4 linked regions of the Homo sapiens genome follow. The protein of the gene in region 1 purifies or fractionates together with the protein of each later gene. This does not show direct contact. Each region holds a gene or a part of one and is shown in the gene's direction. Other genes may lie near its edges.

Evidence for each region.
Region 2: the proteins of OTUD6B (region 1) and LIMCH1 purify together in Homo sapiens (affinity purification with mass spectrometry; 3 studies listed by BioGRID and IntAct, with this or other methods). This does not show direct contact.
Region 3: the proteins of OTUD6B (region 1) and BTBD1 purify together in Homo sapiens (affinity purification with mass spectrometry; 3 studies listed by BioGRID and IntAct, with this or other methods). This does not show direct contact.
Region 4: the proteins of OTUD6B (region 1) and MCTS1 purify together in Homo sapiens (affinity purification with western blotting; 2 studies listed by BioGRID, with this or other methods). This does not show direct contact.

Annotation. Positions count from the first base shown.
Region 1 is NC_000008.11:91,066,178-91,073,360, forward strand, and holds the start of OTUD6B (deubiquitinase OTUD6B), read left to right. Parts: upstream 1-4,166; 5' UTR 4,167-4,207; coding exon 4,208-4,289; intron 4,290-4,960; coding exon 4,961-5,112; intron 5,113-7,183.
Region 2 is NC_000004.12:41,541,148-41,548,176, forward strand, and holds part of LIMCH1 (LIM and calponin homology domains-containing protein 1), read left to right. Parts: intron 1-2,306; exon of another isoform or gene 2,307-2,589; intron 2,590-4,067; exon of another isoform or gene 4,068-4,222; intron 4,223-7,029.
Region 3 is NC_000015.10:83,057,247-83,064,275, reverse strand, and holds part of BTBD1 (BTB/POZ domain-containing protein 1), read left to right. Parts: intron 1-2,430; exon of another isoform or gene 2,431-2,789; intron 2,790-7,029.
Region 4 is NC_000023.11:120,614,077-120,621,105, forward strand, and holds part of MCTS1 (malignant T-cell-amplified sequence 1), read left to right. Parts: 3' UTR 1-7,029. UniProt on the Homo sapiens protein: Translation regulator forming a complex with DENR to promote translation reinitiation.

The DNA of each region.
Region 1 (7,183 bases):
CTGCAAGTGAATGAAGCAGAAATTTATATATAGTATTATTCTAAATTTGAATAGTAATTTAATTGACCAGAAGGAAATATACTGTTTTCAGGGTCTCTCTACATGGTGGGATCATAGGTGAAACAGTCTGGCTCTTTCTCCCCACCCAAATCTCATCTTCATTGTAATTCAAATTGTAATGCCCACGTGTTGGGGGAAGAACCTCGTGGGAGGTGATTAGACCATGGGGGTAGTTCCCCCATGCTGTTCTCATGATAGTGAGTGAGTTTTCATGAGATCTGATGGTTTTATAAGGGGCTTTTCCCCTCTTTGCTTTGCACTCTCTCTCCTGTCACCTTGTGACATAATTTTAAGTTTCCTGAGGCCTTCCCAGCCATGCAGAACTGTGTCAATTAAACCTCTTTTCCTTATAAATTACCCAGTCTTGGGTATTTCTTTATAGCAGCATGAGAATGTACTAATACAACAGGTAACATTTATCATCATCTATATACTTTTCAAAATTTCTGCGGAAATGTTTAATTTATAAAAGCAAAATAGCTTTTTAATATATGTTAAAAAACATAAAGAAGTAAATAACTATCCAAAAAGCTGCCACACAGATATAAGTACTATTAATGTTTTGGCAACATCCAAATATTTTTTTCTACATATATTCTGGATAGCATTTACTGAGCATTCACAATGTATAATGCACTGTGCTGAGAAGTCTTGTAAATATGTAAGATTTTATAATCTAATACTATGCTGCTATTGACCTGAGATACTGCATTTCTAACAAGTTTCCAGGTAATGCCAATGCTGTTTTTCTGAAGGCCATACTTTTCAATAAAAGTGTTGTACATTAAAATATTGTTATATGGAGGTCTGTGAAGGGGAAACAGTGCAGGGAGGGGAAAGAAAAAAGGAGACTTGGGCTTTCCTTTCCTTGAGAATCAATTGTCAGATGCTCAGAATTCATTATGCTACATTAAAGCTCAATTGGGAGAAATAAGTAAATTGTGGTCTCATAACATATTGGGGATAAATCCACTATGAAGGCAGACTACTTCCTCATTTGAAAGGTAGCAAAATTGAAGAACTTTAGTTACTGAGTCCTTCCCATGCATATTCCATTCTTCACTTAGTGTTTTAATTCCTGTTTCTTGCCTTTTCTACATCCATCCCATAGCATGTAAAGTATAATTATCTTCATTGTTGTATTTCCTAAATCATCAGTATTTGTTATAATTTCCTCTTTGACCGAAAGATTATTTAAGAACATTAAAAAAATTCCAAGTGTGTGATTTTTCAGGGTTGAAAATTATTATTTTCTAGGGTTTTTTTTTTTTTGTAATGTGGTCACGAGTGCTTTCTAGAAATATGTTAAAGTTTTCTCTACATTTGAGTATAAAATCATTTAGAAATGCTTCAGGATAATTTGAAGAGAATGCAAAAATAAGGTAGAAAAGTAATATATATATTACACACATATTTTAACTATTTAACTACCTTTTATCTCTTAACTTCCCATTTACTTGATTTATCAAAAGCTGTAACTGCGCTGGGTTGGTGGCTCACATTTGTAATCTTAGTGCTTTGGGAGGCCGAGGCAGGAGGATTACTTGAGCCTAGGAGTTGGGAGACTGCAGTGAGCTATGATGTTGCCACTGCATTCCACCCTAGGCTACAAAGCAAGACCCTCTTGTCTCTAAAAAAAGAAATCATAAATGTTGAAGTCATAGTCCAACATATTTTTTTGCTATATTCTCTTTAATAATACATACAGAAGGATTACTCAATAAATTTTAAATACATAAAATGCAACAATTTAAATGTACATGTTTTTAAATAGATGTATATCGATGTACATAAGTAAAACTATCACCCACATCAAGATCTGGAACATATATTTTATATATTAATGTCATATTATTTACCATATAGTTTGTTAAATGTTACATCCTATATTGTATGTTTTACATAAAATGTCTTATGTTTAGATTTTAAGAAAAATGTTGCCATTTCTATGATTTATAGTTTCCATTATCTTTAAACTCTTTGATCATTTGTTTTATACAAATGTATCTCAGGTTAGAGATTGATTTTTGACCCAATTTCAATTGTAATAGGGCTATTTAACCAGTTTATAGGTCATCTGTACTGTCAATCTACTTTTTGCTAATTTTAGTGTCTTTTTGCTATTTTTCTTTTTACCACTTCTTTTCCAAACATTGGAATGTATATATTCTATTTTTGTAGTTAACACTTATTTCCATGTCAAATTTACTTGGAACTATATGATTTACTTGGAACTATATGATGCAGTAACTACTGTTTTTCCCCATGCATCATGTACAGAAAATGAGGATGTATCCACCCCCTCCCAAACCAGTGATTTGGAAGTTTCTTTACAGTATCAGTAGTAACATGGACAAACTTGTTATTTTTTTCCTGCTATACTTAAAAATAAGGGAAATAAAACTGTACTGTTTTCCAATTGTCAGATTTGACATTTAGAATGTTATTTGTCAAATCTACAGTGACAAAGCCCTTTTACTTAGGTTTAGCTTAAGAACATGCGTATTTGTATCTACAATACTACATGCTAAAAATAAAACAGTATTTGTCCAATATATTGAACATGTGGTATGCCCTTCCAGTTTAAACGTAAACTGAAATTTTACACCCAGCTTATGTTTCTATTTTTGTATTTAGTTTTAATGCCCTATACATAACAATTTAAACTTAATGCTCCTTAACTAGTTTTAATGCATACCATCAGTTCTTTCATACAATTGCCTCCCTATTCTTATTTTAATTCAGGTTCTCTGTTAGCTGCAGTAAATCCTTCAGCAAAATTTTCAGGGAAAGTTCTTGGTTGATATACTTTCCTAACCCCTGTATATCTAAGAATGTCTTCCAGTTTCCTTTGTAAAGAAATGATAACTTGGCAGAGTATATAATTCTTGGCTCAAAATTATTTTCCCTTAACACTCTAGATATTGTTCCACTGTCTTCTGGCATTTAGAATTGCAGGAGAAAAATCTGAGGTCAGCCTGACTTTTGCCCCTTTGTAAGTAACCTGCTTTCTCTGACTGGATGCTTGTAAAATGTTTCGTCTTTGAAATTCAAAAACGTCACCCGGATATGTCTAGATGCTGCTTTCTTTTCATTAAACTTTAAAGGTATCCTATGAGCCTTTTCCATTTGTAGATCTAGTTCGTTCTTCAATTCTGGAAAATTTTTTCAAGTAGATCCTTTATTGTTTCAGCTCCACTTGCTCTGTCCTCAGTTTCAGGTATTCCTATTATGCATAGATTGTATCTCCTGGACCGGCCCTCTAGATCTCTCTTTTTCTCCTCTTAATTTCTTTTCCCCTTTTCTCTGTATTCTGTGACAATTTGTCGTTTTGCACTTACTTCAGTAATTCGATTTTGTGGCCAATCCAGCGTGCGCCCTTCTGTTAACTCTCTCAACTTCCTGGTATTTTCCAAGCGCTCTAATAGTACCCTCTTTATCATCGCGCATAGGTGTTTAAGCTCCTGTATTATATGATTCTCAATCCTTCTTATATCTTGTTTCCATCTCTATATCCGTTTCAAGAGGAGGCATTTTCTCGATTATTTAGCGCTGCTCCTTTTTTCTCAGGGGCGGTATTACGACCTTGGAGACAATAAACATAATTTAATTCCACACAGCCCCAAACAGCCCAAAGATTCCCATTGATAATTATCGACGGCTTTATTAAAATGCGTTATTTTTCTTTCTTACCTTTTCAGTTGCTTTTCTTAGAAACAGGGACCAAAATCAAAGATTAAAGAGGTCCTCTGAAGCAGGGAATGAAATAGACGTTGAAAACTATTCCCGTTACGCCATCTCTGCGCGCCTCACGTCAGGGCCAAGAGCCTAGCGCGTAGCTTTATGGCTGACTCGGCTCTGGCGCTCTAGCCAATTCCGAGGCTGCAAACTCCGCTTCTCCGCTCGCAGTCTGGTTCCTCCCCTGCCGCCCCGCCCATCACGGCAGGGTCACGGTAGCGCGCACGCGCAGCACCCCATTTAAGTTTCTCGTCTTTGCAGTGGCTTTGCTTAGATCCGGTGCCGCCTTGAAGGCGGGGCTGGGTCCCAGCCGTAGCCAATGGAGCCCCGGGTGAGGGTTGAGGGGTGGAAGGTGCCTACTAGCCGGTGCAGGTTTCTTCTAGCGCGTGTGCTGGGGTACCTGGTCGTCATGGAGGCGGTATTGACCGAAGAGCTTGATGAGGAAGAGCAGCTGCTGAGAAGGCATCGCAAAGAGAAGAAGGAGTTGCAAGGTGAGGCGGAAGGAAGTGGGAATCTGGAAGCCGCCGCGACTGGGGGAAGGGCGCGTGGCGGGTCGATTCTGGGGAATCTCAAGGCGTGACTTATCTGGATCACCCTAGACTTCCCCTAGTAGCAAGTGGCCTCTTCTCTCTTCACCTACCCCGGCGGCCCTTTAATTCCCCAACCTTCAGAGGCTTCCCCTTCTGAGGCCTGCGGCGTGCCCCCTACCCCGCGCCGCCGCCGGGGTGCAGGTGTCTGAAAATACCTAGAAGCCGCCGTCTTGGTCCGCTCCCAAACCCACGATGCCTCCCTTTTCTATACCTGCCCCAGTTACCGATACTTGTCCCTAATGGGTGTATTTTGAATGGACCCGCCTCAGTTTAGGAGGTTCAGAAAGGATACCGGAAAGATTTAAAACTGGCTACAGTCAGGTTTTTTTCCTTCTCTTATCTCGCCAAACAACCGAAACATATTCAAGATTTTGTTAATGAAGTTTTTTTTTTTTTTGGTCTCAGCTTTATCTGGGATCTTCTCTCTCTGTAGCTGCCTGTTACGTGATGACTCTTTCTTCCATAATTACTTTTTCTGTACCCTTCGCCCGTTACCATCCCCTTATTGGTTCCTGTTTCTCATCTCCTTTTACTCCTGCGTGTCTGACTTAATGATTTTAATGGCTTTTCAGCCAAAATTCAGGGCATGAAGAATGCTGTTCCCAAGAATGACAAGAAGAGGAGGAAGCAACTCACCGAAGATGTGGCCAAGTTGGAAAAAGAAATGGAACAGAAACATAGAGAGGAACTGGAGCAATTGAAGCTGACTACTAAGGAGAATAAGGTATGTGAAATAAATGTTTGTCGTTGCCTACACCATTTGAAAACAGCTGTCCACTTCTGTTAAATGTTAAACTGCTTTTTTTTTTTTTTTTGAGACGGTGTCTCGCTTTGCAAAACACGCTCAATCTTGGCTCACTGCAAGCTCCGCCTCCCGGGTTCAGGCCATTCTCCTGCCTCAGCCTCCCGAGTAGCTGGTACTACGGGCGCCCGCCACTACGCCCGGCTAATTTTTTGTATTTTTAGTAGAGACAGGGTTTCACCATGTTAGCCAAGACGGTGTCGATCTCCTGACCTTGTGATCCACCCGCCTCGGCCTCCCAAAGTGCTGGGATTACAGGCGTGAGCCACCGTGCCCGGCCCTGTTAAACTGTTTATTATCTAAAATCATAAAATTGGTAGGGAAATGAAATCACTTAGTTATGCTCATGCATCACTTCTCATTAATGTTTTTGTGACCAAGTTTACAGGGCAGTGTGTTTCTATAAGGGAGATCGGCAAAGAAAGTGCTATACTTCTTTACCTATTTACTTGCCCAAAAGATGAAGCTTCACCAAATCAAAGTTGGAAGACCAGGCATCTGATCCCAGAATTGCGACTGAATGGGATTGTAACCTGAGCAAGGTTACTTAATCTTTCTGAGCTCAAATTTTCCCACATATATAATACGATACAAATATTTCTACACTCTAAGCACAGGTTTTTGTAAGAATCAAGAAAGTGAACGTGAAGTCATTTTTGTTATAAAAGTGCTTTATTAACAAGTTGTAATGAATGAAATTTTACTGATGTTTCTTGGGTAAGTTGGAGCATCCTAACTTTCATAATTTTAACTAATATTTATTTTATCGTTGGATCTAATATATATGTGTCAAATACTTTGGTTTATATGTATTATCTCATTTAACCTCAGTAACACACTGTGAGGTATTACCTATGAAGTAAGTATACATAATCCCATTTTTCAAGTGGGAAACAGGGTTAGAGAGATTAAGAACTTTGTCCAGGAGTCGTAACAGCTGTTGATTGCCAAAGCCAGAATTCCAAATGAGAACTATCTTACTCCAGGAAGTGAATACTGAATTCTGTTACAGCTTTGTATAGTGTGGTATTTATTGTATGGGTTTTGGATATGAAGGGTCATATAGACCCCACAACCTCACTCCATCTTTGATAGAAAGTTCTTATGTCTATGTAAAATCTTAATCTGCCATACTTAAATTTTGGTTGATTTTTGGTTTGCTGTTGACAAGTACAGCTTGTCTGTGCTTTTTATAATGGTCCTTACATTAAATATAGTCTAAATTTCTTTAACTTTGTTAGTTATCAAGTTCCCAACTTTCCTTGCCTTTAATGTACTTCATCTCCAGGTAACAAGGCATATATGATACTCCAGGCGTTAAATTGTGTTGTGACAATTGTGTTCCTAATTGTCTCCCCATCTTTTCTATTAATGAGATAGTTTTGTTTGCTCCCTCAGACCTTTCCATTTTGAGGTTTCTTTCCCAGGTTTCCAAGGACAAAAATGTTTGATTCATAAGCTACATGGAGTCCTACTGTTAAAACACAAACTCCCATTTTAGTTTGAACTATTTATCTGTTTCATTAATTTAAATTGGTTTTCTTTTCTGAATACTACCAAAAACTAATGCCATTGCTTTTTTGTTTTTCAGATGCATCTCTTTTATCTTGCCTATTGTCAATATAGATGTTTGTAAATTTTAACAGCTTCCTCTGAAGAATCACAGGACTCCTAATTTCACTATAGTTGATAGCCACTCTTTGAAGTCTCTATCTGATTTTGATATTTTGATCATTTGGGACACAGCCTTTGCAGACTTCTGTCTCTGTGTATTAAAGGCCTTGAGTTGTTCTATGCATGTGTTATACTAAAAACTGGCTTACCTTAGAGTTGCAGTAATAATGGCTACTCATCCTTATAGTTAAAAGTCTAGCATCTTTTTTTTTACTCTAGCAAACACACACTAGCCATTTAGGATTGATTATAATATCAAATGATATTACAAATTAAATATATTTTCTGCCTGCAGTTATCAGTTTGTAGATGGAAAAGG
Region 2 (7,029 bases), on another chromosome or scaffold:
CAGTAATGTATCATCAACCTGTGAAATGTAAAGAAGCACAGGTAAGTAGTGAAAGAATGAAGGAACCAAAGCAGTTGTTGTAATGATATAAAATAAGAGCCATAGCTTATTAGACCCTTAGAGTCCCAAAGCCCAGCCTTGAGAGTGTAGATTCGGGAAGGCTGGATTCCTTTGGCATCCTCTCTTTTCAGCTCTGGGTACTGCCGCAGCAGGTGAGCTTGTGTTTGGTCCCTTTCAGAGTCTGGAGTCTCCCATCTCTTGGAAATACAAGGATATGTATGAGCTACCAACTCCCATCTGGCTTTACTGGTCTGTGAAACATTCTATTTTAATTTGGTGAATCCTTTTTTGACTCTAGAGATCTTCAGCAGTACCTGCCCTTCACACCGTTTCCTCACCTTTGCCAGATCTGCTTTTGAGTAGCAGTTTTATCCCTAGATGTCTTATAGCCCAGACCTGGTAAATCACCAATGTGAATTATAGAACAGGATCATTTTTCATCCTGCTTTCATCCCAGTGGCTGGATTAATTTTTGGATCTCTGCTTTCTGTAAGCAGTCATTTCTTCCACAGCAGCCATCTGTGAAGAAACAGAGCTTACGAAATGACTGGGGCATGTTTTACATGGCTGTGCTCAGTTCCTTCTGTTTGATTCCCATGTAAGCTTTGGCAGTGATTTCCACAAGCGTTTCTGTGGGAGGTGCTGGAGAATGACTTTGGTAAACAGCCCCTTGGCTATTGTTGGCCCTTTCCCTGCAAATACCATAAAGGACACAACTTGAAAAGTCGCTCTGGTTTCTGAGCCCCTCCTAGGGCCCACCCCAGGTCCGACATCTGAAAAGCCGAACTCAGCCATGCTTGTGGTAGAGCAGCGATGTGGACTGCGTCTGTGTTTGCCTGACTTCTGCTGGGCCACTCTGGGCTGGATGGGAGCTCTGACCATAGAGCTTACTCCCCTCCCCTCATTACACATCCTGGGATTTTCACACTAGCCCTCAATCTGTTGGAGTCTTTTTAGGTAGAATCTCATTTCATCTTCCTCGTTTCCGTTTCAGGTTTTCATTCCAAGAATGGAATGGCTGGTTCCATTGAGAACCAGCCTTAGGAGTTCTCAGTGTATTGATTTTATTTACACTGCTAGTGTTACATTTTGCTTTTAGGAATATGGAAAAGCTTAGGGAATTTTTGGACATGTGTTTTTCTCTCTTTCTTTCTTTTCTTTTTTTTTTTCCTGATGGCCAGAGGTTTCTGCTCTCAAATTACTCAGTCAGGGTAATTAAGGACTAAAAAAATGTGAATGTGTGAATTTAACAGTAAAAACTTAAAGGAAGGAAAAAATACCTTCCTTATAGGAAGAAGAGAAAAATGCATATAAATAAACTTGTTAGAAAGAGAAAACTGATTTACCAGCAACTGAACTCCCTTTTGTTTCTTGATTTTTTTGCCTTTAAATAGGCTGTGCTATTTCCTGAAGTTGACCCATTTTCCTTGCTTCTGCCAACACTCCCTTAAGATAAGTATTTATAAAGTTTATTCCACGTTGATATTTCAATTGTTTCCAGAAATCCATCCCATCATAGCAGCTTCCCTACTGCCAGGGAACCTGACCTCAGTATTTCCTGAAGTCAGAGGATGGTCTTATATGTATGTAAGTGCAGGTATCTACAGTAAGAGAGAACAACTTGCTATATAGGGCTCATATGAGTCAACGCCAATAAATTGAAAATAAGAACTGAAAAAATTGTAACATTGTCCTCACATTATTTTTAAAGCATTATCTGTTTCGATGCTGGCAAAACTGATTATCTTATATAATGGCCAAAGGAACTGTTCACTTTCAAGAAATAAGCAACTAGCCTGTCTTTGTTTTCATCAGCATGTTTTTTGGTGACTAATATGTTGATTTGATGAAAGCTAATTGCACAAACATGCGGTTTGTGGGGAAGAAGGTAACGCATGGAACTATGTCTAAGAGATGTGGGTGTTCATTCCATTGGTGGATCCAGCACTTTCTTCCTCAATAAAGAGTATTTGTTCCTAAAATAACTGGTGTCCTTCAAGGCACAGAATGTCTAACTCAGCTGAAGGTATTTAATTTATATTATAAATGTACATATATATTTTATGAATTTTAATAGAAATATATTAATTTACATTTATAAGTTTAAACATAAAAACATAAAATACATGAAATATGTTTGAGTGTATTGTTAGGGACATCTCTGAGCTCCTGTGGAGATAGTGTTTTTTCCCTAACATAACTTACATTTAAGAAAATTGGATTTTTCATGAAATTTACTCAAGTAAGACTGTAGGCTGAGTTTAATATATATGACAACTAAACTTTCGGCCCATATTGCACCAAATTAAAGCTTTCTTCTTTGTCTTTGAGCACAAGAATGAAAGCTGGCATACTGTCCGGTAGACTGAAATGTGTCCTCATGGTCATTTTGACCACCTTATGAGCATGATTAATTGACAACATGTTGTTACTATCTTAATTCTTTGGTCTGAGTCTCAGCTCCCGTGTCAGACCTCTGAGTCCCAAACATAGCGCCACAGTCTGGGTCTTCACATCTTGGCCAGGTTTCTGTTAAAAAAACAAAGGCGCCTCTGTGTTATACTTTTATGGAGCACATGTGGTGTGTATTTATTTTGTGATAGGTTTTTATCACTTGGTAGAAAGATGTTACTGTATCTTAAGTGAACGATTGTTTCACCCTGTTGCTCCACAGACCCTAGTTGTTTCTTTAAAATGGGCGATGGATTTTTAGGGGCGTATTCACAAACCTGCCATGAAAGTCTTTCTTCTCCAGATGTTTACTTCTATATTTTTATGTGAAATTCAACTTTTTCACCTATGGACATGCTTCCCTGCAGCAAATAACATGACAAACTCTTTGCCTTTATATTGTCTTTATATTTCAGATACCCCCCCACCCCCACCAAGCCTTCTCAATTCCAAACCTGTGATTATGCTGGATGCTTTACGTGTTATGCTCCGGCTTGTAATGGGCCAACTGAAAGATAAACTGCTATTAAATAAATCTATGACTCTTTTGAGAACAAATAGAGCTGTTGAAAGAGTTTAAAAACATAGTGACTCCTCGAAAGACTGTGAACATTCTTGAACCCTTTGAATCAAAGTGAATTTTCTTCACTCTCTGTGTGTGGGTATACACTGAAACTTATAAGAAAGAACCTCAGTAGCAAGATATTTGAAGGCTTTTGTGTTCTTAACCCTGCAAGGTTTTTCTTGGCAAGACTTGAAGAAAATGTAGCTGTCGTCTATTTTCTGCTCCTGTCGAGGGGAGCAGTTGAGTCTGGGAGGCCTCTAATGTGTCAGAGAGAAGCCTGCAGAGTAGAGAAGAGCCCAGAAGCCTCCAGGTGCCCAGTGGTTCCCTAATTATTCCATTACCTAGTTACCTGGTTTTCTATTACCTAGTTACCTAGTTATTCCATTCCATTCCACCTCCTCTCCAAGCAAGGCTGGGTGGTTCTTCTATTTTGATCTCTTCTCATGTGTCTCTGTTGCTGTGGAGCTGCAACATCAAAGCCTACCCCAGACCACACGTGTCTTCTGTTGCCACCACGTTTCCCTCTGGACACTGGATCAGCCTTACTGCCATTAGGATGCTTATGCTTCCTAGAAAGCCTCATTTATCTGTGCTGGGGCAGCTGCTGAGGACTACACAAGATTCACTGTCATGGGTTTAGCTTTCAGGGACTCCCCAACTTGCCTAAGTTACCTCTTGGGTCCTTGATTGAAACTCCAGTTGCCAAGTAATGAAGATACAGAATTTTGCATTGATCTCTCTTCCCTTTTCCATCTTTCCTGTTTCCATTCTGAAAGGAACTGCTCTGAACTGGCAAATGCCTACAGGGACTTCAGTGTCATAGGACAGGCTACTTTGACTCCTTTGTATAACCTCAAAGTCACTGCCAATACAAGGGTAAAACAGATTCTGTTCTTTGTACTCAAATTCAGTGTGATGTGAGTTGGAATGCTAAGAAAAACTTAAGAGATATTTTTAGCAAAAATGAAATATTTTGATGCCTATCGCTCACCTGAAAATTTTCCCAGATTTGCCATTTCTAGATTTTTAGCAGCTTCACAAAGGGGTATTGTGTTTGAGTCGGAAGAGAAAAATGTTTTTATTTCCTGTCCTTGACGTTTAGTGGAATTGATAAAAAGCATCAAGGATCTTTGAGTTCTGGATCTCCTGCAAAAAAACACATTATGTAAGAAAGGACTTGAGTGTTTTTTTCCTGTTCGTCAGTACGAGGGGAGAGTTACTGTGGAAAGTGAAGGGCAGTGATCATCAGGAATGGAAAACAAAGAGCTTTGCTAGAAAATCACAGCAAGGGTGATCAAGCAGTTACCCTATTATCTGGCTCTAAACTTAATGTTGACCTCGACAACGACTTTTACATCCTCCCCCCAAACAGGCTCCTTTACTCATTCCTGAAAGGACACTGTTGCAACTTGAGTTATAGGGTTGTTGGAGCTACCTGATGTTTTATTAAATGGTTATTTAATCAATAAATGAGTGAGTGATCATCTCTTATGGTTGATCAGAAAGTATTCATTTAAAAAGTCATAGGTTTAACTTTTTTAAAAGTCAAGTCAGCACAGAGCTTATGTATTTAAGCAGTTGGAAGTCAAAATATTAATATGTTCAGTCAAGAATATCCATTTCGTTTCATACTTACTTGGCAGTTTAATTTTTTTTTGGCCATAGTTTACATGGTCCAACTGTTAGGTTGCTTAAATTTGCCAATATGAAATATTAACATTGGGGTGAATGCTTTATGAAAACAAGAAATTGTTTCTGCTTGGTCTACCTGTTTATTCATTCATCAAGATTTCCCAGGCTCTGTCAACAGATTTCTAAGCAGATATTTGATGATATATTGTTATAGGAATAAAAAATATGTTATAGAAATAGAAAACTACCTTCCATGTAGAGTAGAAAGAAGCCTTCATTGGTCTGTTTTTTTTGTTTTTTTGAGATGGAGTCTCACTCTGTCACCCAGGCTGGAGTGCAGTGGTGTGATCTCAGCTCACTGCAACCTCCACCTCCCTGGTTCAAGCAATTCTCCTGCCTCACCCTCCCAAGTAGCTGGGAGTACAGGTGTGCGCCACCATGCCCAACTAATTTTTGTAATTTTCATAGAGATGGGGTTTCACCATGTTGGCCAGGCTGGTCTCGAATTCCTGAGCTCAAGTGATCTGCCTCTCTCAGCCTCCCAAAGTGCTGGGATTATAGGCATGAGCCACCATGCCCAGCCTGTATTTTTTTTTTTTAATAAAAATAATCCTTGGGCAGCTGTTTATGTTGTTCTGTTATGCTTGCCTATCTATAGAATGAAATCAATGTGGTTTTTTTTCTCAACTTTCTTCTTTTTTATTCTTTTTTAGCCCCATCATTCAGTCTCTTTGTTCCTAAGTCTTTCAGATGCTTTAACCACACTATTTTCTTACCTGATTTTCTGTTCCACTTAGCATGTTATTCCAGGCAATGAATGTGTTGCTTCCCCTGTGATAGATTATGGCACTAAAATAGTAATGAGCTTTAGTACAATCAGAGCAAAAATTACTCTCCTAGGTAAGCCCCATTCTTCCCCTAGCTCAATTCAGTGTTCCATTAGCCACAGAAATGCCAAGGATTCCACATACCTACATATATATATGGAGAGAGAGAGAGACAAGCGAGAGAGAGAAAGAGAGAGAGAGGTTGAGACCGAGATTGAGACAGAGAGAGCTAGTTCCCTGTCAGGTCTTTACTACTGGAAGAGTCAAAGATTTGCAAATGGAGATTTTTCTTTGCATCTTCTTCTTCCTATTATCCTTTTTTGTAAACAATGTTTATTTTATTTTTAATTGACAAGTAATAATTATATATATTTCTGGGATACAAGGTGATGAGGTGATGTTATGATGTCTATACAATGTGGAATGATCAAATCAGGCTAATTAACTGTCAGCTTGCTGACTTATTTCTTTGTGGTGAGAACATTTAAAATCTACTCTTCACACAATTTTGACATATACATTATTATCAGCTATAGTCGCTGTGCTGTCTAATAGATCACTGGAACATACTCCTCCTGTCTAACTGGAATTTCGTGTGCTTTGACTAACATGTCACCTTTCTTCACCCACCTGTTACCTCCTCCTTAGCCTCCGGTAACCCCCATTCTACTCTCTACCTCTATGAGTTTGGCTTTTTTAGATTCCAAGTATAAGTGAGATCATGTGGTATCTGTCTTCCTGTGCTTTTTATTCTTAAAGATATTAACTGCAGAGGCCCAGCTTCATCCCCTGTCTTAGCCACTTCCCAGCCCAAGGTGACCTTGGGCTAATAATTTAAGTTTCGCATTTTTTCATCTGTAAAATGATGATTAACTATAGTATTGACCTTATAAGACCATAGTAAGGATTAAATGAGCTAATATATAATAAAATATACAGATATTATAAATATATACATATATAATATATACAGATATAAATATATACATATATAATATATGTATGTTATATATACATATATAATAGTATACACATATATACATATATAATATATACATAAATAATATATAAAAATATAAAAATATAAACATACATATAATATACATATATTATAAATAAATACAATATAATATACATTATAAATACATATAATGTTTTATGATATATAATTTGTGTGTGTGTATATATATATATATATATATATATATATATATAAACAGTGAGTACATTACCTAGTGCATGGTATGTGCTCAGAAAAAGATGACTATAGTAATGGTGCTGGCAGGTGTTAATGTCATTCATATTTTTCCCTAAACCTCTATTTTCCCATCTATTAAATAGCATAGTAATAGTACCTAACTCATTAATTTGTGAGGAATAAAGGCATATGGATCAACGTAGCATGTTGCCTGGCACCTTATAAGATCTCAGTGAATGATGATGTATACTTCTGCAATGATACAGATCATTGCACTTCTCCTGTTTATCTCTACC
Region 3 (7,029 bases), on another chromosome or scaffold:
AATTTAATTTTGGCTGGCTGTGTAACGTAGATGTTGTTGTTAGCTAATACGTGACAAAAAGATGCCTGATAGTACTTGCTAAGTTGGAAGAGCAGGTTAGTTTGGGCATACTTGTAAACATCCTGAATTAGTTAACATTACTTACAGGCTCATGAACTTAAGTTTGAAGCCCTTAAAGAAACTGTGCACTTTGAACTGCCTGACCTTTAAATGATGTTCTTCAGTTGTTTGACAAATACTATATGCCTCCCTTTTGGGGCGCTTGTGAAACAGCGAATGGCTGTTGTAGGTGTTTGGGACACAGCAATAAACAAGAAAAAGTCCTTGCCCTCATGAAGCACATAATCTAGTAAAGGGAAACTAAAGATACAATGTCAAGTACTGATGAATGTTTTGAAGAAAAATAATCAAGTTATGAGAGAAGGAACATTCTCAGCAAGGGAACGCATTGTTTTCGGCACTAAGTATCTCCTGTTGGAGGAACACAAGAGTGAACCAGTGTGCCTTAAGCACAGTAGAGGGAAGTGGTAGAAAATGAGGTCAAAAAGATAGGCCAGACAGGATGGTGCAGGGCTTTAGAGACTGAGCGAAGACTTTTTCAGCTGGTATTTGATGGAAAGCCTTTGGAGAGTTTTGAATGAGATTGGGGAGGCGGAGGTGGTGGCAGGAGGTTGTGATCTGATTTACATTTTAAAAAAACAAACTCTTTCTGGCAGTGGTTGGAGTAAAATAGGCAGCAAGGTGATAGATGAAGAGGCTTTTGCAGTAGTCCAGGCAAGAGGCGATGGTGAATTGTACCTTGTACCAGGGAGGTAGCAAAGGACATGATGAGACATGGTCAAATTCTGGATATATTTTTGAAGGTACAACCAAGAGGACTTCCAAGACATCCAAGTAGTGTCATAGAGTAGACAGAAATATGAATTTGGAGGTGAGGGAACAGCTTGCTGAACATAAATTTGCAAGTTAAGAGTGAATGGTATTTAAATCGAGAGATCAAGTGAGATTACCTAGGAAGGCATGTAGACTGTGAAGAGAGGTACAAGGATGAGCTCTGGAATCTTCAAATATGTAGAGATGTAGCAGAGAAAAAGCATAAAATGAAACTGAGAAGCAGCTGTCAGTGGAATTAGAAGAGAAAGAAGGAGCATTATATTCTGAAAGTCAAGTCAAAACATTTCAAGAAAGAAGAAGTGGGAAATGTCAACTATGGAAAGTGGAAAGTGGTCAGTTATGCTCAATGCTATTGAGAGTCAGGTATAATGAAGACTTTGAGTTGATTTTTAATCTTGACAAGGTGGAAGCTATCGATAACCCTGCCAAGAGTGATTTCAGCTGATTAGAGTAGGTTAGGCAGAAAATGGGAAGTGAGGAGCTGGAGACAGTATAAACAGTCCTCTCAGGAGTTTTGTTGCAAAGGGGAACAGAGAATGACGTGATGGCTGGAAGGGGCACGAGGTAAGTGTTCTTCAGTATTCAGTCCTCAGCTCTCATCCTTTCTCCCATCAACCAAAGTGAGAGCTTTACGCACTCATTCCCCCACATGTGTCTCCAAAGCTCTACTTAGCTCCAGACCCTCATTTCCAACTGGACCATCGTGAAGTAATGTTTTATACCCATGCAGATGGACATGTTATTAATGAAAATATCTGACATTTAATGAGTACTTTTACTGTGTGCCATAGATTGTTCCTAAGCCCCTTTGTGATCTCACTTAAATTTCAGGAAAATCCTTTGAGACAGGCATACTTCTTATCCCCCTGCAATAGCTTTTGCCATATTAATGCTATAAATAAAGCAACCCCCAAAAAGCAATAATTTATTCTTGCTTATGATTCTGTAGGTCAGCTAGGAAATGACTTCATGGGCCTAGCTCCAAATTGTAGTTTCGTTTCACTCCATTCTACACATTTCTTGTCCATTTTAGACCATTCCTGAAAATTTTACCTGCCTCTCCATTTTTTTCTGCATTGCTTCAACCAAACTACTGCGTTTAGACTTAACTCTCTCCATTCATCCTGTTAACAGTGATCTCTCCAATATTGGTATATGGTCATATAATTCCCCTGAATCTTTTAATGACTTCTTTTTACCTACAGGATGTTTAAACACTTTAGCAGGTACATGAAACCTTTGTGATTTGATCTCTCTTTCTTCATCTCCTCTCCATCCACTCAGTGTTTCAACCCTAATTACTAATGGCCTTTTTCTTGTTTTAGTGCCTGCTTCTAAGGCCTCCTTACCTTTGTACTCCTCAGTCTTTCTGCCAGGGCTCCACACTTAATTACTACTCTTCAGATAATCTTCAGGCTTTACTTCCTCTGTAAAAATTCCACCCACAGGCAAAATTGCACACTGGCTCATCTAATTAATCTCTCACAGCATGTTTTGGTTATCTGTTGCTGTGGAACAAATCACTGGAATGCGTAGTGACTTAAACAACTTTTATTATCTTTTACAGTTGTGTGGGTTGACTGGAATCACTTAGGTGGTTTGTCGTCTATGTAGCTGTAGTCAGATAGCAGGTGGGGTTGGACTCATCTGGAGGTTTAACTCACAGTCTGGGATGGCTGAGCCTTAAGTCTCAGGTCCTCTTCAAGAGGCTTCTTCAGCTGGTCTCTCCAGCAGGGTAGCTTGACTTCGTGGCTCATGACTCCGAGGAACACAAAAGCAGGAGCTGCCAGGCATCCTTAAGGTGTAGGTCTCAGACTGGTGCAATGTCACTCTGCCACAATCTGTTGGTTCAAGGGGCTCACACAGGGACAACCCAGATTCATCATGGGACAGATCTATGTAAGGACATGAACACAAGAAAGTATGATTTCTTGGGGCCATCATTAGAGATTAGTTATTAGATATGAGTGCCTAATATATACTTCTGTTATTAGGACATTACTTTTTAATCATTTCAGTACCAGACTATAGTTGCGTGCTGCATAATGGCATTTTGGTGAACAGTGGACTGCAAATAAGATGGTGGACCCATAAGATTATAATACGGTATTTTTACTGTGCATTTTCCATGTTTAGATACACAATACTCACCATTGTTTTAAAGTTGCCTATAGTATTCAGTACAGTAACATCCTGTACTGGTTTGTAGCCCTGAAGCAATAGTCTATACCACATAGCTTAGGTGCGTAGTAGGCTATACCATTGAGATTTATGTGAGTGCAGTCTATGATGTTTGCATGATGATGAAATTGCCGAACAATGCCTTTCTTAGAATGTATCTCCATCTTTAAGTAATGCATGACTGACTGTGTAAGGTTTTTATGGGCAAAGCTATCTTACCCATATTTTTATCTCTAGCACTATTACAGTGCCTGCTATATAGTCCCTCAATAAATGTTTTTGAGTAAAATGAACAGATAAGTAGTGATACAAAGTTTCTTACACATATCTTGTGATCATTCTTATATAAAATCAAGTATTCACCTTAGGCTTTTAAAATTTACTTTATTTTATTTTATTTTATTTTTTGAGATAGAGTTTCACTCTGTCGCCCAGGCTGGAGTACAGTGGCGCGATCTTGGCTTACCCAATCTCCGCTTGCTGGGTTCAAGCAATTCTCCTGGCTTAGCCTCCCGAATAGCTGGGATTACAGGTGTGTGCCACCACGCCTGGCTAATTTTTGTATTTTTAGTAGAGATGGGGTTTTACCATATTGGCCAGGCTGGTCTCAAACTCCTGACCCCAGGTGATCCGCCTGCCTCGGCCTCCCAAAGTGCTGGGATTACAGGTGTGAGCTACCGTGCCCGGCTTTAAATTTTTAGTTAGATTAAATATAACCTAAGTTGTTTTTTTTTTTTTTTGAAAATTATTAATTTGGGGGGAAAATAGGACTAATTTGAGGACATGTAATAATTTTTCTGTGCTCTCGTCCTTAGAGGTTGTATATGAGAGCTTAAATGATCACTTTAAAATACGAAGAATTGTGGTAATGTCATGTTTAATCTTTACATTTTAAAAACCTTGGCTTAGTTTTTTTTTAAATATTATAAAAACTCTAATAATTAAATAGAATGTAAAGGAAATGTATACATATGAATCAAGAGGATTCTTGGATTTTTAAGTAACTTTTTTTATTAGAAATGAAAATATTTTCCCTTTTGACGTTACATAGAAACCTGTGCTGAATTGTCTAGTCAATTAACGTGTATTTATTGAGACTTAAACACATGCCCATAATGTGCCTGGTACTGTTTAAGAAATAAATTAAAAATATAAGATACACAGAGATCCTTTTCTTACTGTTTATTGTCCAGTATTTATTTTTAATTTGCAGTGCACCCAAAAGAACTTAAAATGTCTTATAAGAAACACAAGGGTAAGAAATAAACTAGAGTCAAGGGTGAAGCTAATAGAAAAATGTATGCTGTCAAGCTGGGTACAGTGGCTCAGGCCTATAATCCCAGCACTTGGGGAGGCTGAGGCGGGAGGATTGCTTGAGGCCAGGAGTTTGAAACTAGCCTGGGAAATATAGCAAGACCTGTCTCTACAAAAACATAAAGCATAAAAAAAAATGAGCTGAGCCTAGTGGCATGTGCCTGTAGTGTTAGTTACTCTGGAGGCTGAAGCAGGAGATTCACCTGAGCCCAGGAATTTCAGGATACAGTGAGCTATGATCGTGCCACCACTCTCCACCCGGAGTGACAATGAGACCCTGTCTCAAAAACAAACAAAATGTATAAGCTATAAACTTTTGTTGTTGTTGTTGTTGTTGTTTTTGAGACGGAGTCTTGCTCTGTCGCCCAGGCTGGAGTACAATGGCGTGATCTCAGCTAACTGCAACCCCTGCTGCCCGGGTTCAAGTGATTCTCCTGCCTCAGCCTCCTGAGTAGCTGGGATTACAGGCGCCCGCCACCATGCCGGCTAATTTTTGTGTTTTTAGTAGAGTCGGGGTTTCACCAGGTTGGGCAGGCTGATCTTGAACTCCTGACCTCAGGTGATCCACCTGCCTTTGCCTCCCAAAGTGCTGGGATTACAGGCGTGAGCCACCATGCCCGGCCAACTTTGTTTTAATTATCTGAGCAGCTAGTGCAAAAAGAGAAACCTGGGTGGACGTAATTATTTATAGATTAAAAACAAGGCAACTGCTTAGGAGATGCACAAATCTGATAATTAGATGAGTTTTTAAAAAAATCCTGATGAGATCCCCTCATACAGAAGACATTGCTGTAATGAAGTGTCTTCAGTCTGTGTCTTCAGATACATACTTGTTTTAAAAAATGTTCCTTGATAGAAAGCAAAAGTATATTACTGAAGTATAATTTGATAAAAGCAATTTGAATGGGAGATCTCACACAAAATAATCTACAAACTTGATTCTCTCTTGTTCCTGGAGTGTACTTCCCACCGTCCTTTTAATCTTTAGATCTAATCTCAAGCAGAAATTTCTCTACAAACCTTTTCCACATCTTCCTAAGTCAAAGCCCGCATTTATAGATTCTCATAGAACCATGTATAGGTTTGCGGCACTTGTCCTGTTAAGTGTGAATCTAATCAAGGGCAAATGGTGATAAAGGCCTCACATTGCTGCTCTGTTTTACAACTCTAGTAATTTTTACCTGACAAAAATACATCAAGGCAGGCATGTAAAGACTTCTAGACTGCTACCTTGTCCTTCAAACAAAAATTTCTTTTTTTTTTTAATTAAAAAAAAATTTTTTTAAGTCTCACTTTGTTGGCCGGGCTAGAGTGCAGTGTTGCGATCTCCGCTCCCTGCAGCCTCCACCTCCCAGATTCAAGTGAGTCTCCTGCCTCAACCTCCCAGATAGCTGGGATGACAGGCATGAGCCACCGTGCCTGGCCTAAAACAAAAATTTCATAGTTTTCTAGTTTAAGAAGGGAATTGAGCATGCTGTTAGCATTCTCTCTCTCTCAATTAAAATGACTATTAAGAAATTTTTAAAAAATAGTAAGTCCATTACAATGAAGAGAAAAAGAGAGGTTGGAAGGGCCAACAGAGTAGAAAGGGACAGAGAAGTTGGAAGCTGATTGATGGATGAACTAGAGTAGATGAATCTGGAGCCCAGAATCCAGAGCTTTCAAAGCCGCAGCGGAGCTGGAGCGCCTTTCCTGGCAGAACCCCAACAAAGTTCTTGGCTAGCAGTTGGAAGTAAGGAGGGTGGAAATGAGAAGGTAGTGCTAAAACATGGAAATTAATTTAAAGCCTGTGTATAGACCATCCCCTTAGCCAGCTGTCCATGACAATGGACAGGCTTTTTGAGATAAATTGAACAAACTGCCTGAGAAGAACTGGGACTGCTGGGTATGGCTTTGGGACCCCAGGGTTAAGCTCTCTTCCAATGGCTTTGAGGGGTCCCTGCCCTAGGGCTGGCTTCCCACTCTAATGCCAGGTGCCAGTCAGCAAGCCTCCCACATACACAGAGCTCCCAGCCAACATTTCTGTTTTGGAGATAGTATTATCTTGAAAACAGACCAGCTGCTTAGAATAGTGAAGTTGGAGACGGAGTTTAATCATCTGACATATAAGGAAAAGCAGAACGTGAATGACAGAGACCAAGAGAAACACAACAGCGGATCCTCAAGGAAACAGACGAGAACTTTTAAAACTTTGGTTAATGTCATCTTGGAGACTTCAGAAAGTTTTTGCGTTCATAAAACCAGCACATGGTGCTGTGGAGAAAAAAGGAACGATCAAGAAAGAAGCAAGCATTCTTAGAAATTTAAATGTGATTGCTGTAGAGAAAAATAGGAAGGCACCAGAAGATAATGGCAAGGAAATCTTCCAAAATGCAGAGGGAAATAATGATAAAAAATATGAGACAACATACAGATAAATAGCTAATATTTACTGAGGCAATTTTTTTTGTCAGGCGTTATTCAAAATGCTTTGTGTTTTAATTTATGTTAATCCTCACAACCACATTATGAAGTAGGTGCTCTTATTCTCATCTTTTTAGAGAGGCAGGCATTGATAATAAGTCACATGGCTAGCAAGTGACAAAACAAGCTCAAACCCAAGCAGTCTATTTCCTCTTGGCCTTACTGTATGGCACTGAA
Region 4 (7,029 bases), on another chromosome or scaffold:
GCAAAAAGAGAGAGATCATTTGGCTGGCTGTTCCAGCTGGGTCTCCCAGGATGTAACATAGGTGGACATAGATCCAGGGTCTGACCCTCAGCTTGAGAAACCATTTCCCACTGATGAAACTTGAGAGACTTGGAGATTCCCCAGTTAGAATATAAATGTATTAATTCATAGTGATAGGTCTGCCTATGGTAAACAATTAGGAAACAGGAAGTTACTTGGTAAACACAGGTATGAGCAAAGGAAGATTGATAAATTGGGGTAATATTTCAGTTGTGCTGAGGTAAGACTTGGAGAATTTTTCCTGCTTCATCATTAATTAGAATGCTTATCTCTGCCAAAATCTCATCTCTTTCCTAGCCCATAGAGGTGCCCTGATATTTTATTTCCTATATCCTTTTCAAGTTCCATGTAGTTTTCCTTATGTTATGACAGTTTTATTCTGCAGCTTACCATATTATTTATTCCTGGTCCACGAAAGTATAAATAGTCTCATCAGGAACTCATTTGTAAGTCATCTCCCAGGGGGGTTTCTTCAACAGATAGTTTAATTTTTTGCTGACTTACTGGCTTCAAATTCAGATGTCTCCCTATTTGGGGGAGGAGGCACCCTATTTGAGGCCTGTAGCTCCTTATGTTCTTAAAAAGAATATACAAGTCATTTATGTCAGAATCAAACTTTGAACCTTTATTTTTGTTGCTAAGAGAATGTTTTTTGACCAAGACTGCCTATGGAGTATTAGCAATGAAAAACAAAGCACACATATACATACATTAGAGAAGTAAAAACTTTTAATAGCTTGGTTTTTGAAATAATTCATCTTTGTGTCTAACCACTGTTACAGTGGGTGTAAGGAACACTTTTTAAATATTCAACATCAACATCTGTGCTTGTTTTTCTACTGTGCTGAGGTACACTGTGTTGCCTTGGTGATATGGACTAAATATGTATGTTCTCTGCTTCCCCTGGGTCTGAGGCCTCTGCTCATCACTGTTAATCAGGGATGTCACTCTACATGTGTGATCCTTGTCATTTTCTAAACATTAGGTCATACATGAAAGGCAATTCAAAGAGATTAAACTAGCAGATGTGTCAGCATCTTTAGATACTGTGCTTAATGGAAACTTAGTTTACCTATATTCGTGAGAATAGGAATACAGGGATAGAGAGCCTGCTTCTCTCAGGCAGTGTGTCTTTAGTTCATTTTTAGTTTCAAAATTAAGTTTGTGTCAAACCAACCTACAATCTAGTAACTTGTGTATTGGACTCACTTTTACTCAGACAAGGTCAGTTCAGCTCAATAGGTATTTATTGAGTATCTACTAGGTTCTAAGTGACGTGGCATGAAGATGAATAATACAGAAGTAGCCCTTGCTCTTAAGGAGCTTCCAATCTAGTGAGTAAAGAAAATTTACATTTTAAATAATCTGGGTAATGGTGACAGCCCAATACTAATATGTAAAGCCAGTAGGAATGTACTAATCCTTTTCCAATTTTAGTCATCAAAAATTGTAAATTACAAATGAACTAAATGTAGTAATATTCCATAGATTGTATCCAATGTGAGGGTAAAAAAAAAATCCCAGATGTCTTGGAGTTGCCGTGATTCAGCATCCCAACTCAGATGATTGTCCTGTTGTCCGGTGACATAATGGCCTGATCAGTTCTCTTCTAGCAGACTGTCTGTTATGGTGGTTTGGTAGTGGTCTGTTGGGAAGCTGCATTTTTCCTTTTCTGTTTTTATGCTCTGGACCCCAAACAAAAACAGCTGGATTTATCCCATGGGTAGTCATGAACATTTCCAATTTGAGGGATTTTATATTCCCCAAACAGAAGGTTATATGGCATATATCAAATAATAATGATATCCAGCCAGGTTCCCTGTCGTACCCAAATCAGTAACTGAAGATACGTATTTCTAAGTATAATACTTCAGAGGAAGAGATAAGAATTACAATTCACTAAATTCGTGGAGGTGTTTCATTATAATAAATATGTCACTTATTAATAATGTAGCAATTATATATTAATGGAAATATGAATGTATGCCCAAGCAAAATGTCATAAATATTTTAACTTTGTTTGTCTAGGTTCCTTAATTTTGAGACTATAATTATCAAGGCTCTTCAAGAAACTCAAAATGATTCTAATTTCTAAGTAGTATGCATTAAAACTGATATATAATGAAAGAAAAACAGTGAAAATGTATGCATCAGTTTCTAAAGAAATCATACTTGTCATTGTAGAGATGCATGTAAATTAAATGTATTATACATTTTTATACTTGTATGTATTTTATACTTTGTATGAATACTTTTATTACACTTTTTAAGGCAGGTAAAAGAATGAGTAGATGTTATCAACTATAACAACAATTTGTTGAATACTGTGTTAAAACCAAGTAAAGGACCACAACTCCACGAGATCAGGAATGAATGAAGAAAATTGAGGGCCAGTTTTTAAATCATTGTTGAGACTATTAGGTTCATCTGTCTGTTTAAGAGTCTGGCCTTAGGGAATATAATTTATGCATGTAAAAAAATACAGGAGATGATTCACTGGAATGTCTCTTAATAATACCATGTTCATTAAGAATAGGTCATTGGGAGGAAAAATAAATAAAAACATCTGAACTCATTAGTATAATTAATACTTGCCTCTTAGAATGAAAATTAAAGAACTCCAAATTTTAGCCTTGAATACTTTGAGAAATAAAAGATGAATTAGTGAAATAATTTCTACTTAAAATCTTAGTTGTTACAGAGAATGACATGCCTCACTATTAATGTCCAATTCTAATTAATGGATTGTTTTAGAAATGTATTTGTGAAATATAGCAAACATAGCTAGTAATACTAACAGGTGAAAACTGATATTTCAAATGACTAAATAGACTTAAGATTAGAGGAAGGTAGGAAAAGGTGTGCAACTAACAGAAGCAGTTAACCAAAAAATGAGCTTCAGGCATCAGTCTTATTTGGAAGACTGTAAATCAACAGGCTAACGTTCAAAATATGGCAGACATCTTAATATCAATATATGCTAAATTGGTTTATCTTTAGGCAGAAACAGAAAGCAAAAAATTAAACTCATCCAACTCATACATTTGTTGTTGTTGTTGTTGTTGTTGTTTTTGAGATGGAGTCTTGCTTCATTGCCCAGGCTGGAGTGCAATGGCACGATCTCGGCTCACTGCAACCTCTGTCTTCCGGGTTCAAGCGATTCTCCTGCCTCAGCCTCCCGAGTAGCTGGGATCCCATGCGTGTGCCACCACACCTAGCTAATTTTTGTATTTTTAGTAGAGACAGGGTTTCACCATGTTGGCCAGGCTGGTCTCAAACTCCTGACCTCAGGTGATGCACCCGCCTTGGCCTCCCAAAGTGCTGGGATTACAGGTGTGAACCACCACACCCGACCCAACTAATACATTTTTAAAATCCCATTTTAAAAGTAAAACCACAGTTTTCATATAACAAATGTTATTGCTCTTCATTTCATTCTCCAATTTTAAAATGCTTTACTTTCAGCCAATATGTGAATATAGGAGACTTCAAAAGCATAATCAATTACTCCCTTAAAGTTCATTGTAAGTGTTCTCAGAACTCTACCACCTAGAATTTAAAGACGGGAAGATTTACTTTATAATTTTAATTTCTTATCACAAGACTCGATTGTCAATAACTGTTAACGTCCATTTAATAATCTATGGTGAAATAGGTAATTTCTTCTTATTTTCACAAGCGTGTGAGTAAAAGACTGGGTTTTAAGCAATAAATCATTTGTTCTAACTAAGCACATGCTTGGAAAAAGTGCTATTTTTCCAAACGTATGCCTTGAAAACAAATACAATTCAATTGCCTTTTTGGTTCATGGGAAGCCATACTGCGGTGGCTTCCAAGGTTGGCCAACCTGTTTTTATTCTTACCACCTCTTTCAAAAAGGGATGTTGTCTTTGTCCCCAAATTCTGGTGTTGTCCTATGCTGATGCATAATGAAGCCCTGAGGCTTGGAAACTTGCAAACCAATAAGATGATTTAATGATGAAACGGCATGTCAGTTTGACACTGTCTATTAATAGTCCTTGAGTGAGCTTAAATTTGAGACACTTTTAAAAGCGGCATGTAGTTCCAGTTTTGCTTCCCTTATCAGTGGAGCTTGAGATGTCTGTTCCTGCCGACTGATGTTTTAACAAATTTTTAGTTTCTCATGATGTGAAAGATTTTGTATGCACGTCTTAGTCTGGATACTGTTTTCATTAGTTCTAATGCTGCTGCATGCAAATTTTGTTTAAAACCAAAATTGACTCTTCACATCTGGACTAGATTGGACATGGTGAGGAGGCTGGAAGGAAAGTCCTTTTTGCTCTGTAGGCTCTGGACAGCTTTCTTAGAGTTGACTTATCCAGGATTAAGAAAAAGTTTTCTTTTGCGTGACTAAATTCTTTCCACAGTTTGCTTGTGTAAGCATTTTAGATTTAAGCAAGTTCAACTTGAAATATATTTGAATATGAAGTAGAAACAGCTTCATTTAATGGGATAATAGCAATCTCTAACCCATCAAATTAATATCTACTAAATAGCTTCCAAAAAGCACTGACTGGAAAATATTTTTCACTATCATGGCTTTATTCAGTTTCAAAAACAGTAGGGGCTAAAATGTTTGGACATTTATCCTGCATTTATTTTGTGTTTCACAAGGTTAAAATTTTGTATTTTGTAAAGTGTCTGAAAAGGAGTCCACAAAGTATTTCTGCTTTCTTGCTCCTGAATGCAAAGGTCTGAGAGAAGGCACATCCTCATTAGCTTCTGGGTGTTGTCAAACCCAATCCTCTCTCAAGTACCAAATGCCCAGATACATTTATTGGGATGCAGGAATCTCACTTAAGTAGCGGTTTTTGCTGATATAAAGACAAACATCTTGATTAAAGTGTAGGGAGATAGAAACTATACCAATTTGGGCAATTTTGGCTCTAATGTCTAATTTGTTGTGAAAGGGGAAGATGTTCTAAGCTAATGTTCTTAAAAGTAACTTATGAATTTCTTAAAAATAGTTTTTAAAAAGCTGTTTCAGGAAAAGCTGTTTTATTGCATGGCACAGATTAAATGTACAGATGTTATCTTAAAACAATGAAAGAGTTCCCCTAATTTGAATATTCAATACCAGCTGTTATTCACATCAATATTTTAACATTTTACCATCAAGATATTTAATACAAAGGATTGATACATATTTAACTGTTTAGAATTCTAGTTAAACTTGTCCAGATGAGTAAGAGGGAAGGAGAAATAACATTCTCCAAGTACCTACCATGTGCACAAGCTCTACTTATATATCTTGCTTAATCTTAGCAATGATTCCATGAGGTAGATTTTAACTCTCATTTTACAAACGAGGAGACTAAGGCTCAGAGAGGTCATACAACTTCAGGAAAGTTGTATGACCTCTCTGAGGTAATAAATGGCAGAACTGGAATTTGAACCTAAGTCTCCTTGTCTGCAAATCCTGTGTTTTGCAGAAAACTCTCCTCTTGTATTTCATAAAATGTTAAATCTTGGCCCAAATTCAAATCACCATCTTTATGGGTTATTGGAGAGAGGTATAAGTTGGCAAGACTCTGTTCCACGATGGGAAAAAATGGGTAGGATTTGAATGAGTAAGAGTGGGATACTTGCACAGTATCATATTTGTGTGGCTGGAGTAATGTTTTTCTGTTTCCCTCTTAGCAAAGTGGAGTGGGAGAATCTTGAAATTGAACTCAGTCCTGAGGTCTGATTTTCCTATTATTAGTCACTTTCAAGCCAGGTGATTTGTGACCATTTAAATGTTATGCTATTTCAAAGTCTTCTACATCTTTAGAAAAGGACATGAGGGAGGGTTAGTTAAGTGGGGCAATGAGAATGTAGAGTGTAATGTGCAAAAGCAGGACTAGCAGTTGCTTTGAAGATATCTGGGGAAGGCCGGGCACGGTGGTTCACGCCTGTAATCCCAGTACTTTGGGAGGCCAAGGTGGGCGGATCACGAGGTCAGGAGATCGAGACCATCCTGGCTAACGTGAAACCCCGTCTATACTAAAAATACAAAAAATTAACCGGACGCAGTGGTGGGCGCCTGTAGTCCCAGCTACTCGGGAGGCTGAGGCAGGAGAGTGGCATGAACCCGGGAGGCGGAGCTTGCAGTGAGCTGAGATCGCACCACTGCATTCCAGCCTGGACAACAGAGCGAAACTCCGTCTCAAAAACCAACCAAACAAAAAACAAAAATTAGCTGGGCATGGTGGCGCGTGCCTGTAATCCCAGCACTTTGGGAGCCAAGGTGGGTGGATCATGAGGTCAGAAGATTGAGACCACCCTGGCCAACATGGTGAAATCCTGTCTCTACTAAAAATACAAAAAAAAAAAAAAAAAAAAAAATTAGCCGGGCGTGGTGGCGCGTGCCTGTAATCCCAGCTACACAGGAGGCTGAGGCAGGAGATTTGCTTGAACCTGGGAGGCGGAGGTTGCAGTGAGCCGAGATTGTGCCACTGCACTCCAGCCTGGGCGACAGAGCAAGACTCCGTCTAAAAAAAAAAAAAAGATATTAAAATTAATGACAGGAAGAGTTTGGGTTCAGTTATAATTTAAGGGAAAAAACATTGAGGGGCCTAATCTACATTTTGCTCCGGATCCAATGATTTAATTTTTGGGAAGAAAAATCCAGTGATTAAAGTCATGCAAGGAGATGGCCTGGGGCTTGCTAAAAGTCAGGTTGCAGTTTCCATTGCATTCAAGAAAATCAGAAAAATAAATACAACTTTTAGAAGAAACTAAGTTTTCTCCCATTCATGTTTAGCTATTGGGGGGTCTCATACTTCTGGACTTGCTTAGACCTATGCTATCTAATATGGTAGCCTCTGCCCATCCATATGTGGCCACTGAGAACTTGAAATGTGACTAGTTTGAATTAAGATGTGCTGTAACTAAAATACACCCTGGATTTCAAAGACTTAATAAATAATGTAAATTATCTATTCTTTCCTGTTGATTATATATTGA